2 separate regions of the Homo sapiens genome follow, and region 2 is linked to region 1. Evidence: fine-mapped expression QTL. A gene starts in region 1. The other region holds a variant in brackets. All regions are shown on one strand. Distances are between the middles of the regions.

Region 1 (2,500 bases):
TCCTTTCCAGTGTACCTGGAAAGAGAGTTAAATACGCAGTCAGTACACAGTGAAACAGCTCTATCTGGGAGGAGGGAAGCCCCAGGGACAGCTGGATCCCACAGGAGATACCTGACAAGGACTAAGAGGAGGCTTCCCAGAGGGCATAACACCTATGCTGGATCTTTTGGAGGAAAAAATAATTGTCAGGAGAAAAGGAGTGAAAAAGACCTTTGGGCTTAAACATGAACCAACATGGCGGATGCTTCAAGCAAGTGGGGTTGCTGGGCCCTAAAGGTGGAGAGGGGTGAAATGAAAAGACTCGCCTCTTCTTCCCCACATTTGTTGAGAATCTGGTCACAGTGGCATTGTCGAGGGTATTGAAGGTGAACAAAGGAGATGTGGTCCCTGCCCTCAGGGAATGCCTAGTCTAATGGTGGAGGCAGAGCTGTAAGCTAACAAGGTAACCCAGACAAAGTGGGCATCAGTCATGTGTTCTACAAATATGTACTGAGGACACACTCTGTGCCAGGTACTGGAAATACAGCAGTGAGCGACACAAAAGCCATGGTGCTTCCACTCTTCCAGGGGAGTTGGACAAATAAAATACTTAGTATGCCAAATGGTGATCAGTAAGTACCGTGAGAAATGTAAAGCTGGGAAGCAGAGGAGCGTTTAAGTGGGGTGGAATATTAAACAGAATGGTCAGAGAAGGCCTTTTCAAGAAGGTGAGCAAAAACTGAAAGGAAGTTACAGGATGAGCCGCATGTATAGTTAGGAGAAGCAGAGAGAGCAAGTGCAAGGGCAGTGAGGTCGCGGTATGGTTGGCACGTTCAAAGAAATAGCAAGGAGGGCAGTGCAGCCAGAGGAGGGAGTTAGTGGGGGAATATTAGAAGGTGAAGTCAGCTGAGGGGCGTGGGGAGCCTAGCAGGCTATTGTGAGAACTTTGGCTTTTCTCCTGAATGAAATGGGAGCCATCAGGGCATTTCGACAGGGTAGTGACATCTTACTGAAGCTTAATAAGCATCACCAGGACATCGCGGGAGCCCAGCAAACGCGCTTCCCTGCCACTGGGTTAGGGAAGGCTTGCCGGAAGGACGATTTCGGAGGACAGCAGGTGTTAGCCAGGCAGCGGAGCGAGCGCCAACAGGCGCACTGGGGCGGAGAGACGCCGTGAGCAAGGTGAGGCAGAGGGCACGCGCGGCGCCACCCGCCACAGGCTAGGACGCACGGCTGCCAGAGAGGACGCCTTAGGGGCCCGCGAGCAGGCTCGGGAATAAAACAGGGCTGGCAGGGCGAGGTGGAGAGACTCGAGAAGGACCGGCCAGATGTCGAAGTTCCTAGAGAGGAGGGCGCCCAAGCCTCCGCCGAGACGCGTGACTACAACTACCACAATCCCCAGCGCCTGCGGTTCCAGCGTCGCCTTGCTCTAGACGGGCGGCGGCGCTGCGCGGGGAACCGGCGTGGGGTCACGTGGTACCGGCGCATCACGTGGGCGAGTTAGGTGACGCTGCGGGGCGGGCGGACAGACTGCGGGACGGACGGTGGACGCTGGGACGCGTTTGTAGCTCCGGCCCCGCCGTTCCGACCCCCGCCGCCGTCGCCGCCATGACGGGGCTAGCACTGCTCTACTCCGGGGTCTTCGTGGCCTTCTGGGCCTGCGCGCTGGCCGTGGGTGAGGCCGGGTCCTGGCGGGCGGGAGCAGCATCGCGGCCGAGCTGGCCGGGTCGGAACTCGGCGGGGAAGTGGCCTGCGGGGAATACTGGCCCCCCGCGCGCTCTGCACCCGAGGCTCTGGGGACTTGCGCCTGCGAGGGCCTCTGACTCCGACAAAGGAGACCCGGATTTCCAGCTGCTTGAGGAGGGGTGCGGGCGGGTAGGGGCCGCGAGGGCAGCACTCCCCCGTCCTGCCACTATCGCTGTCTCCCCTCGCTCCCACGTCTCACTGCTGTCCCCCCTTTCTTGCTCCTGACCGGCCCGCTCGGTCACAAGCCGGCTGCTCCGGTTCCTCTTTTCCCAGTCGCTTTGCCCTCCCCCACCCACAGCTTGTTGGGTAAACAGCGGAACGGACTGGGCCGGCGGGATCTGGCTGGAGCGCTTGCTCCCTCGGTCCCGCCTCGGATTCGGGCTTGCGGGTGGCGACCCTGCCTGCGCAGGTGCTTGGTCTGGGAGGTGGTTTTAGCGAGGGAATGGCAGAAAATGGAGGCCTAAGCAGAGGAATCTGTCTACACAGCTGTACTGTCACCTGGGGGCAGCCTGAGGACGCCCCTTCAGGGAGGTGGCCCTTCAGCTCGGCAGCTACTTTAGGTTGAAGAACTTCTCTCTACCGAGCAGCCCGTAACCCCCTTTTTCTCCCTCACTGCTGCAGGAGTCTGCTACACCATTTTTGATTTGGGCTTCCGCTTTGATGTGGCATGGTAAGGGAGGGCAGGGGGAGGATTCCCCTTGAAGCTTCTTCCCTGCAGCCTCTCTTCTTTTCTCTGGTCTGAGTCCCTCCCCCACACCACTGCCTGCCTGGGACA
Region 2 (3,012 bases), 33 kb before region 1:
CTGCTGAAGCCTTCATAATTTTTTGGATGGTTTATTCCTCATCCTCCTACCTGGTCTCACTGTCTCCAGTCACAACTCCCTCCAACCATTCTCAGCGCTGCAGCCAGATAAGTTGCCTTCTCTTCATATTAACCGAGCATGAACTGTCGTGCACTGGGCTAGTTTCAGGGATTCAGAGACCAGTGAGAAACATGTTTTGCCATCAAGGAAACTATACTTGGAGATGGAAGTAGGGGTAGGGTAGCAAATAAAAGTAAAAGACATCCTGTTAAATTTGGATTTCAGGCCCTGCGTGGTGACTCATGCCTGTAATCCCAGCACTTTGGGAGGCTGAGGTGGGCGGATCATGAGGTCAAGAGAGTGAGACCACCCTAGCCAACATGGTAAAACCCGGTCTCTACTAAAAATATAAAAATTAGCTGGGCGTGGTGGCACGCACCTGTAGTCCCAGCTACTTGGGAGGCTGAGGCAGGAGAATCGCTTGAACCCGGGAGGCAGAGGTTGCAGTGAGCCAAGATTGTGCCACTGCACTCTAGCCTGGCGACAAAGTGAGACTCTGTCTCAAAAAAAAAAATGGATTTAAGGTAAACAATAAATACACCTTTTTTTTTTTTAGATAGGGTCTTGCTGTGTCCCTCGGGCTGGAGTGCAGTGGTGTGATCTCAGTTCACTGCAACCTCCACCTCCTGGGCTCAAGCGATCCTCTCACCTTAGCCTCCTAACTAGCTAAGACTACAGGTGCATTCTACCACGACTGGCTAATTTTTAAATTTTTTTAATTTTTATTTTTTTGGTAGAGATGGGCTCTTGCTATGTTACCCAGGCTGGTCTCGAACTCCTGAGTTCAAGAGATCCTCCCACATTGGCCTCCCAAAGTGCTCGGATTACAGGTGCGAGTCACCATGCCTGGCCTAAATACTTGTTTTCAGTATGTCCAATGCAATAATTGAGACATACTTATACAAAAAAATTGGCTGGGCGTGGTGGCTCACCCCTGTAATCCCAGCACTTTGGGAGGCTGAAACAGGTGGATCGCTAGCGCTCAGGAATTCAAGACCAGCCTGGGCAACATAGTGAAACCCTGTCTCTACCAAAAATACAAAAACTTAGCCAGGTGTGGTGACGTGCATCTGTGGTCCAGCTACTTGGGAGGCTGAGGTGGAAGGATTGCTTGAGCCCAAAATCGTACCACTGCACTCCAACCTGGGTGACAGAATAAGACTCTATCTCAAAAAAAAAAAAAAAAAAAAAAAAAGGCTGGGAGCAGTGGCTCACGCCTGTAATCCCAGCACTTTAGGAGGCCGAGGAGGGCAGATCACGAGGTCAGAAGATCGAGACCATCCTGGCTAACATGGTGAAACCCTGTCTCTACTAAAAATACAAAAAATTAGCTGGGCGTGGTGGTGGGCGCCTGTAGTCCCAGCTACTCAGGAGAATGGTGTGAACCTGGGAGGCAGAGCTTGCAGTGAG[C/A]TGAGATCGTGCCACTGCACTCCAGCCTAGGCGACAGAGTGAGACTCCATCTCAAAAAAAAAAAAATTGTTGTTTATCTCATATTCAAAATTAAATAGATGGCCAGGTGCGGTGGCTCATGCCTGTAATCCCAGCACTTTGGGAGGCCGAGGTGGGCGGATCACGAGGTCAAGAGTTTGAGACCAGCCTGGCCAATATGGTGAAACCCTGTCTCTACTAAAAATACAAAATTAGCCGGGGATGGTGGTGCACACCTGTAGTCCCAGTTACTCAGGAGGCAGAAGAATTGCTTGAACCTGGGAGGCAGAGGTTGCAGTGAGCCGTGACACTGAACTCTAGCCTGGGTGACAGAGCAAGACTCCATCTCAAAAAAAAAAAAAATAAATAAGTGTCCTGATTTTTTTCTGGCAACCCTAGGTAGGGGTAAACAAGTACCCCAGTAGAAGTATGACTGAGGTTATAGGTATGTGTGTCAAGGAGGGGGCAGATTCTACAATCACAAAGGAAGAGGAATCAGTTTTTTCCTGGATAGACGCAGAAGAGGAAAAGTCTTTGTGGAAAAGGTGGTATTTGAACTGAGTCTTGAAAAATGAGTTTGTTTGCACAGGGTGGATTATAGGGTGGATGAGAGGCATGGAACCCGAACTGGTTATTGCTGATTGCCTTTATTTCCTCTCACTTCTAAATGTACACTGTTCATTGTGGCCATGTCCTGTCCTGCACGGTGTGGTTCTCAGCCCTGGACAGGAATGGAGTGGAGAGGTGAGGGCCTCTTCCTTGGGCTCTCCATCTCAGCCTGAAGACTCTGCTAGTCCTATATTCTTTAGATTTTTATTTGTTTATTTATTTATTTATTTACTTCTTACTAGCCAGTTCATCACAGCTTCAATTCCCTGTTACACTTCAAAATGCTTATGTTGAACTTTCCCTGCCTGCTGACTGTGTGATGTCTCTCTCCTGATGGCATCCAGAATGACACAGAGCCTTCTCAACAGAGGAAGTAGCATGAACAAAGACAGGGAAGTGTGAAACAGCCTGGTGCGCTCCCAGGATTGCCAGCAACTTCAGGTGGACTTGGGGAGGGTCCTCATCAAGACAAAAGACTGGAGAGGTCACAAAGGGCTTTGAATGTTATACCGAGAAGCTCAGCCTTCGCTCTGAAAGGAGCCACTAAAGGGTTTTAAGTGGGCTTGGTTAGAGATGTGTTTCAGATGGATCACTTGCTACTGTGTCTAGTATGGATGGAAGAGGCAAGGTGGGTGCCAGCTAGAGCTGCCATAGTTAGAGCCGTTCAGGCAACAAGCACAGGTACCTTGAGTTAGGGCAGAAGCAAATGTGCAAGGACAGAAGAGATGTGAGGGACAATAAGAGAGGTGAGGGCTGGATGAGAGATGGTTTCCAGGTGTCTAGCTTGGGGGACTGGTACAGAACACAGGGGATGTAGTATTTTAGCATGTGATAGGGGTAAGATGTGGGGAAAATGTGAGTTCAGTTTTGTACATGTTCAACTTTGGGTGCCTGTGGCAACTTCAGAGGGCCAGG

Alleles and levels. Positions count from the first base shown, and alleles are read on the strand shown. Sizes are in standard deviations (SD) of each study's normalised expression.
For the expression in tibial nerve of the gene that starts at base 1,507 in region 1, A is the high allele of the variant in region 2 and C is the other (large effect, 1.1 SD a copy in GTEx).

What was found. PIP is the estimated chance that this variant, and not a neighbour inherited with it, causes the effect.
Region 2: its variant is fine-mapped to the expression of ATP6V0B in tibial nerve (GTEx, PIP above 0.99). The same link has a PIP of 0.9 or more in cerebellar hemisphere, cerebellum, cerebral cortex, gastroesophageal junction, ileum and prefrontal cortex.

Annotation. Positions count from the first base shown.
Region 1 is chr1:43,973,454-43,975,953 of GRCh38, forward strand. It overlaps ATP6V0B (ATPase H+ transporting V0 subunit b), which reads left to right and starts at 1,507. Exons shown (of 8, transcript NM_004047.5): 1 at 1,507-1,654; 2 at 2,347-2,395. The coding sequence starts at 1,588. LOC124904167 (a long non-coding RNA gene) reads right to left here and starts at 1,412. Exons shown (of 2, transcript XR_007066053.1): 1 at 990-1,412; 2 at 1-434. RefSeq lists enhancers at 660-1,493, 1,076-1,195, 1,246-1,295, 1,494-2,326 and silencers at 1,546-1,595, 1,996-2,045.
Region 2 is chr1:43,940,180-43,943,191 of GRCh38, forward strand. LINC02918 (long intergenic non-protein coding RNA 2918) reads right to left here and starts at 362. Exons shown (of 2, transcript XR_947283.2): 1 at 51-362. The variant C/A (reference allele first, on the strand shown) is at 1,471.